Homo sapiens: one gene and its partner. The protein of the gene in region 2 interacts with the protein of the main gene of each other region in a pairwise test. Each region holds a gene or a part of one and is shown on either strand. Other genes may lie near its edges.

Evidence for each region.
Region 1: the proteins of ZNF267 (region 2) and ADORA2B interact in a two-hybrid assay, tested with the Homo sapiens proteins (one large-scale study listed by BioGRID and IntAct).

The regions. Positions count from the first base shown.
Region 1 is NC_000017.11:15,968,938-15,972,749, reverse strand, and holds part of ADORA2B (adenosine receptor A2b), read right to left. Parts: intron 3,162-3,812; coding exon of another isoform or gene 2,987-3,161; exon of another isoform or gene 2,814-2,986; coding exon of another isoform or gene 2,782-2,813; intron 1-2,781. UniProt on the Homo sapiens protein: Receptor for adenosine. The activity of this receptor is mediated by G proteins which activate adenylyl cyclase.
Region 2 is NC_000016.10:31,872,333-31,876,622, forward strand, and holds the start of ZNF267 (zinc finger protein 267), read left to right. Parts: upstream 1-1,474; 5' UTR 1,475-1,634; coding exon 1,635-1,637; intron 1,638-2,819; exon of another isoform or gene 2,820-2,970; intron 2,971-4,290. UniProt on the Homo sapiens protein: May be involved in transcriptional regulation.

The DNA of each region.
Region 1 (3,812 bases), on a different chromosome or scaffold from region 2:
ATACTAGAAACCACTACTGGGGATACCAATACAAAGGGACAAGATCCTAGTCCTTAAGAGGTTTGACCAGTATCCAGTTGAGAGATACAACATGTATCAGATAAGCAGGCTCTATGACAAGTGAGTTATGGGGCAAGAGAATGGGAGCGGCCACCTCTGCCTAAGAGGTGACCAAGAAAGGAAGTGACCTTATAAGAGCAACAGATGCCATAATATCCCTTTTAGACATTTTGCTATACACTAGTCTATCCATGGTTTATAGCAAAGGTACACATTTTGTTATTAACAACTGGTCCATAATACATATGTAATGTATAAATGAACATAATCAATGTAATGTATTAAGTAAATGAAATAAAATCCTTCTGTAATCTCTGGAAGAGAAAACTGGGAAATAATTTGATTGACATTACCTGAAGACTTGCCCATGGGAAGTGTTTGTTTGCTTTACCTGCAGTGTAAGACGTATACTTCCCAGCATGGCCGCAGAACCCCCCAGCCTCGGCTCCACACGTCCAGTGCCTGCCATTCTTAACCAATGGCTCCCTCTGGCTCATGCTATTCTCAACATCAGACAAAGCATCTGTTGCTCTTAAAAGGTCACTTCCTTTCTTGCTCACCTCTTAGGTAGAGGTGGCCACTCCCATTCTCCTGCCCCATAACTCACTTGTCATAGAGCTGGCTTATCTGATACCTGTGGTATCCCTCAACTGGAATGTCAGCCTCTTAAGGACTAGGACCTTGTCCCTTTGTATTGGTATCCCGAAGACCTAGCACAGTTCCCAGCACATAGTATGTTCTTAATATGGCCATCACAGGCCAGGCATGGTGGCTCATGCCTATAATCCCAGTACTTCAGGAGGCCGAGGCAGGCGGATCACTTGAGGTCAGGCATTTGAGACCAGCCTGGCCAACACGGTGAAACCCCGTCTCTCCTAAAAATACGAAAATTAGCTAGGCATGGTGGTGGGCACCTGTAATCCCAGCTACTCAGGTGGCTGAGACAGGAGAATTGCCTGAACCTGGGAGGCAGAGGATGCAGTGAGCCGAGATCATTACACCATTGCACTCCAACCTGGGCGACAGAGTGAGATTCCATCTCAAAAAAAAAAAAAAAAAATGGCCATTACAAATACATTCATCATTTATTATCTGACTTTATTAGGCAGCTTTAAAGAAAGATTCTACTTACTAGGAATACTTGAGGTTGCAGCCTGAACAGGCAGAAGAACCAGTCGTTTGCTGAGGAAGTTAGCTGAGGTCTTGCCTCATAATTTACAATGATCTCTAATCTTTTCTACTCCCTCTTAGCAACAGGCAGCTCAATCATGGGCCCCTATACTACAGAAGACCTGCTGGGCTCAGTTTTTTCACTGAATTTGTCTTGGCCAGTGAATTCATCTGTTTCCCACCTCATTCAGGAATGTAAAGCCTTCCTTAAAAACAGTTGTTCTCTGCCATTGCCTCACTGGAGATGTGAATAACACAATTAGTCCCTGCAGCATAACAAGGAAGCCTCCCAAAGGCGGAGTCCTAAGAATCACAGAACTTCAGGTCCATGAGGCAGCCCATGCAGCAGCCTGCCCTTACTCCTCCTTTGTTCACAGGACTAAGCTGTATCGAGTACAGCGGGTAACAGGTCAGCTCTGGGGGATGAATTTATGTTTGGGATAAGGAAATTATGGCACTTCCATTCTCATGATTGGTCTAGTGGATACATGAAGTGGTTCTGGCCAGTGAGACATACAAGGACATCTGCTAGGGACCTCCAGGAAAGATTTTACTCCCTGATGAAGAGAGAGGGACCCATAAGGACAGCTCTGCCCCATGACCATCCTTTTCTGCTTTTGATGCTCTTGTGGAAGGGTGTGATGCCCTCAGCTGTAGCAGCCACACTGTGACCATAAGGGACAAGCCTGGAGACAAAGCTGATGGCAAAGCAGAAGACAATAGTAGAGCCTGGGTCCTTGATGACACCTTTGAACCACCTGACTAACCCTAGAACCATCACAGCTCCATATTCTGGTTTCAAAAGATAATTAAATGTTTCGATTGCTGATAACACTGTGAGGTACTCCGTTAACACAGCCAAACTGGAGAGGACTTTTATCTTTCTAGTCCAATCTCTCTTATTTCACAAATAAGAAAAGAAAACAAAGAAAAGAAGAACAAAGCTAATACACAAACCAAAGACCAGAAGCTAAATCAGTACTCACAGGCCTGTGTTCCTTGCACTATGTTATGCTGCCTCTTTTTTTTAAAGCGATTTTATATTTGCAGCACCCTGTACATAGAGGCTCATTCATAGGGGTGGCTTCCTACTAGAGTTCAGAACAACAACTGGAGTCCACCCCATCTGAACTTCTCATAGCTGCTGGATCCGACACATGTGCAAAACTGTCATGCCTTCTCTTGGATAAGGAAAAGCAGCTAATTAAATCAGTGGGGCAGCTGGTCACTGCCTTCTCTGTAAACCTCCATCACCACCACTCTTCCCTGTTGGTTCATTAGTTCATTCGAAGAGTTTTTCATTTGTACCACACATTCTGCTAGGCACTGGAAACACAATCACTGCCCTTGTGGAACATAAGCTAATGGGAAACACAGAAAATAAGTAAACATATAAATACGAAGTTATGAATTGCGACGGGTTCCGCTATACCAAAATGAACTGGATGCACTGAGAAGAGAAACATGGAGGCCTTGGATACAGGATGTCAGGAGGCCTTTCAGGCAGAAGCTAAAGGTTGAGGAGTGAGAAATTTGAAAAGTAGAACATACCAGGCCGAGAGAACAACATGTGCTGCTTTCATGCAGGAAAATGAGCCCAAGATGAGGCAGGGGCCAGTTCATAGGCACCGGGACCCATGGAAGACTTTTAAGCAGGGGATGGTACTGATTTCTGTTGTATAAAGGTCACCTGGCCAGAGTACGGAGACTGAATTTTAGGGGAGCCAGAAGAAAAGCAGAGAGATCAGCTAGGAAACTATTTCGGTAGTTGACTCGAGACAACGTCGGCTTGGGCCAGGGTGACAGCAAAAATGATGGAAGTGGATATGCGCTGTGGAGGCAGAACCAACAGGTCTTGCAGATCAACAGGTGCAGGAAGATGAAGACTGGAGGATGATTCCTTAGGGTTTCCCCCTACGCATTTGCATTTCCTGAAAGAGAGGATTAAAGGAAGAGTGGGATAAAGATCAAGAGAATGGTGGATGCGGGCACACTGCTGAAAATGATCAGTAGAGAAGATGCAGGAAAAAGGGACAGATTATTATTATTATTTTATTTATTTATTTTGAGACAGAGTCTCACACTGTCGCCAGGGCTGCAGTGCAATGGCGCGTCTCAGCTCACTGCAACCTCTGCCTCCTGGTTTCAAGCGATTCTCCTGCCTCAGCCTCCCGAGTAGCTGGGACTACAGGCGCCCACCACCACACCCGGCTATTTCTTTTTTTGTATTTTTAGTAGAGATGGGTTTTCACTGTGTTAGCCAGGATGGTCTCGATCTCCTGACCTCGTGATCCGCCCACCTCAGCCTCCCACAGTGCTGGGATTACAGGCGTGAGCCTCCACGCCCGGCCAAAGGGACAGATTATTAAAGAAGGTAAGAATGGGAGGAGGTGGAGGATGCAGGGTCCAGGGCATGTGGGGAAGGACACTTCCTCAGCTGCAGTGGAAGGAAGGACAAGAACAGCGCCAGTGCAGGGAGTGGGACAGTTGAGTGGTGAGAAGATGGGCCAGCATCTCCTTGAGAACTGCTGTTACCTCAGAGAAGGATGGAGAAAGTTATCAGCTGAGGCAGGGGAGGAACC
Region 2 (4,290 bases):
CCTAATCTGGTGGCAGGGAGGCCACAGAGTGCAGCGACTAGAACTGGGTGAGAGGGTGAGAGGCAGCCATGCCCCAGGCCAAGACAAGTGCATGGAATCCTGACTGTCAGCAATCAGGGATGTTTCTGCTTTGGGGAGGGAAGCATTTGTTCCACACGTCTCACTGAATAAGGCACAGAGCCTGATCTGTCCCAAGTGGGAGTTTAACCAAGCTAGATGGCGGCCGAGGGCCCTGGCCCAGTTTGACACCCACCTCCTCTCCCACCTTCTACTCAGCCAGAAGACTAGGAGAATCTACTCAGCCGGAAGACTACGAGGTGCTGCAGCGCCACTAGCTCCAAGACTCCAGAAAAACAGGAATAGGGCATTCTGGCAGGTCAAAGCAGACAGAATACTTGAGCTCAGGAGTTGGCGAACTGACTATTAACCTGTAGCCCCAGTTACTTGGGAGGCTAAGGTGGGAGGATCGCTTGAGCTCAGGAGATGGAGACCAGCCTGGGCAACATGGTGAAACCTCATCTCTACAAAAAATACAAAAATCAGCCGGGCATGGTGGCATGTGCCTGTAGTCCCAGCTACTCAGGAGGCTGAGGTGGGAAGATTGCTTGAGCCCCGGAGGCTGCAGTGAGCCATGACTGCACCACTGCACCAGCCTGGGCAATAGAGTGAGACCCTGTCTCAAAACAAAAGCAAAAACCAGAGGTAGGGCTGAGGAGTCCGTGGCCACAGAGCCTGAGCCAGCACGGCCCAGAGGAACTGAGCTCCCAGCCCTGTCGCTGCCAAGGACCCTTCTTCCCTGAGCTTGAAGGGATTGAGAAGGAGAGACAGACGGACAGTCAGCGGCCCCGTTACCAGTGATGCAGACTCCAGGAGATGCGGGCAGAGTTGTAGATTAGAAGAATAGGCCAGCCCCTCTTCCACGTTCCACCACGGCCCGCAACATCCTCCTGGGACCCCAGCCTGCATGCCCCTATAAGATGCTTTTGCACTGGTTCAGTCTATGTATCATGCGAGGGCCTAATTGAAAACACGTGAATGAAGTGTACGGCCTTCTGTTCCCAGCTGAGGGGCCCCCTCCCACGGTGGCGTTAGCAGTGGGGTACAGTGCGGTAAGAGAGGTGCTAAGGGACGGGATGAGGGTCTTTCTTGCTTTAAAGGTGTCTAAATATACTTCTTCTTAAACTTAATTAGCTAATAAGATGTCTTATACAAGCAGAACCAGGTAAGGGAAAGAGCAAGTGTATTTCAAGTCGCAGCTCACCCCTTAATTAGCTGTAATACCCGCAGCAGGCGGCCCCACCTCAATGAGCCAGTCTCCCTTTCAAAAAAAAAAAAAAAAAAGGCACTAATAATGAGGGGGCGGGGCATGGAGCTTTATCCAATCAGGGGCGCTGGAGTGGAAACCGTCCAATCAGGAGTGAAGCCGGAGAGCAGGGGCGGCTTCCGGGATTTGGCGGGGGCCTTCGTCGGCTCCAGTTAGAGCTCGGGTCTCCTCGCCACAGCTCCGAGTCTTTCGTTCTGGGAGGCCCAGGCGGCTTCGCGTTCTGAGAATAAACAGAACCTCTGTTGCTCTGCGACTTGCAGGCACTGGGAGATTCGTAGCTAAGACGCCAGGGCATCCCGGAAGCTGGGAAATGGTGAGTGTGCGGGGTCGGGGGTCCCCAGAGGGAGGGAGGGCGGTGGTCGGAAGCGGCGGGAACCCGCTGTAGGGGCACCCGGGCCTCCCCGCAGTCAGCCTCGGGGTCTGGGCCCCGAGTCCCAACTGGTGCAGCTCGGCCCTCGGTCCCCTCCGCTGCAAGATGGCGGCCAGGCCGGCAGCCGGGACCCCGCGTGTCCTGTCCCATCCCGACCCCGCAGAGCGACCTCGTCCCTGGCCGGAGCCCTCTCTGGGCAGCTCCGCGTCGCAGCCCCGCGTCTCCCCCAGATTGTGCGGTGAGGACGGGAGCGTCTCAGGGGAGACCCAGGTTCGGTGTGTGGGAAGAAACCGTGCCCTGTGGGGTCCTCAGTCACTACTCCTCTTAAGAATTAAAGGGAGTCACTGTTAAAACGTTGAAGAATTTGAGCAAATAGCGATTTGTGACATGGGAAGCCTGCAGTCCTGGTTTGTGGTTCGGAGATCCCCAGAGGGGCTTGAAGGAAAGGTTTTTATAAGGTGCATGAGGAAGCAGACCAAATTAACCGATGGGTTACAGTTTGTAGTTGCCTTATTTAGACTATGCAGGTGGAGGTGAATTGGAGCTTTGTGGTTCGTTAAGTCTGAATTTTGTTTTCCCCTAAAGTTGTAATTTACAAGAAAAGCATTTGAGTTTGGTTTTGGTTTTTCTCCCTAGAAACCTGGGGCACTATAACCACTTCCGTATAATCGCCTGCTCATTAATCATCTTAACACTGCCCAGGGGAACTGGTTTTCCCCCTGCGCTTTCCTAACGTGTAGCACGCAGAGTCTCAAGTCCACCACTGTGTTCCCCCAGTCTAACTGGGCTTGCAATAAAATATTAAATTTCCAGTTCCTTCCCGACATTTCCAAAGGCCAACTTCCCCTCTCCAGTTCACATTCTTAACTATTGGTCATTTATTGTACATTTCAGACAGTATTTTACTCATTAATCATGATTTCACAGAGCAGTGGATGACACTTTTTTAAAGATTTGTGTTTTTTTGGCATACATTTCACGTGAGAGGAAAGCAGAGAATAAAAAATCCCTGACACTCCACTGCAAAAAAAACTGTGCCTCTTTTTCATTCATCTTCCCCAGGCACAGACACGTTATCGGAAAGAATGTCTTTTGACTTGAGGTTTTGCTTTGGAAACTTTACAGGGCCCTGTATAGCCACCCTCTATCCAGTCTTTTCCTGTTCCTGAATTTCAGAACTGTCTGGGATGACTCAAGATGCCCACAGTGGCCATGTCTCCTGGAGTGTTTAGTGACTGTCAGCCCCAGGTCACCTCCTGTTAGAGGACCGCCCAAGGTATGGAAATGTAGTCCCTCAGGGGAGCAGCTGGATGCCCTGGGGCTGAGAGAAATCTCCTGGGACACCCTTAACCTAAAAAGATAACCCCTTGGGACATAAGGATTTTATTTCTTCAAAGCTAGTTTTCATCCCTTGGAGACACATTGCTGGTCAGCCAATCGTTTGCTGGTATTGAGGGGAAACAGTCACAAATGATTCCTGCCCCCTAGATTCATTCAGATTTGTGAAGGGAGAAAAACTCCCAAAGGACCAAAAAACAAAAACCCCACCCCAGTGAGGTGGTGCAAACTCGGCTGCGGTGTCCATGGGGCACAGTGCAGGATCTGGGAGGATGGTCCCTGAGCATTTTAATGAGCAGTATTGGGGTAGGAGAATGTCTCAAATGATACCGTGACCTGACTTGACACTTGAGCCAGATATGTCTGTATTCCAACAGCATTACCACTCCCTGAGTTTGCTGCCTTAGATTGTTCATTTATTTCTACTTCAGTTTTTCAGTTAGTGTAAATTTCATCAGTAGAGCTTGAAAGATAAAAAACATTTCCAAGGCCATGAAAGGTGGATTTCAGAAAATTAAAATATCAAGTCATACTTCATTGTTAAAAATTCTTACTATCTTTTTTTTCAGCAGAATGAGTGTAGTAAGTTTCTCAGGTTTGTTCTTTTTTTGGGAGTAATTTAAAACAGAATCTCAGGGCTCACCTTTTGGAAATGCTGCCAGGGAAAAGAAACAGAGAAAATCTTTCTTTCATTATTGGCTGTAGAAAGTGAATACATTTTCACAACAACGTGTGGTAAATTGGTGAATTACATAGTTTCATCAAAACATCAGTTTCTTTTTTTTGTAGGGTGAAGAAGTTATGACAGTGGATATCTTTGTTCTTTATCCTCTTGTCTGGATGTTGAGTTTATTTTTTATTTTTTGTTTTTGGAGACAGGATCTCTCCTCTGTCACCCAGACTGAAGTGCAGTGGTGTGATCACAGCTCACTCAACCTCCTGGGCTCAAGTGATCCTCCCACCTCAGCCTTCCAAGTAGATGGGACTTACAGGGGTGCTGCGCCATGGCTGGCTATTTTGTTTTTTCTTTTTGTAAAGATGTGGGTCTCACTGTGTTGCCCCCAGAGTGGTCTCAAACTCCTGGGCTCAAGTGATCCTCCCGCCTTGGCCTCCCAAAGTGCTGGGATAACAGGCATGAGCCACCATGCCTGGCCTTGGATGTATGGCTTTAATGCTGAACGTAGCACTGGCTAGAATTGTTTATATATGATTATTTACTAAATGATCTGTTATCATGGAAATAAGTAAGTGGCCTATT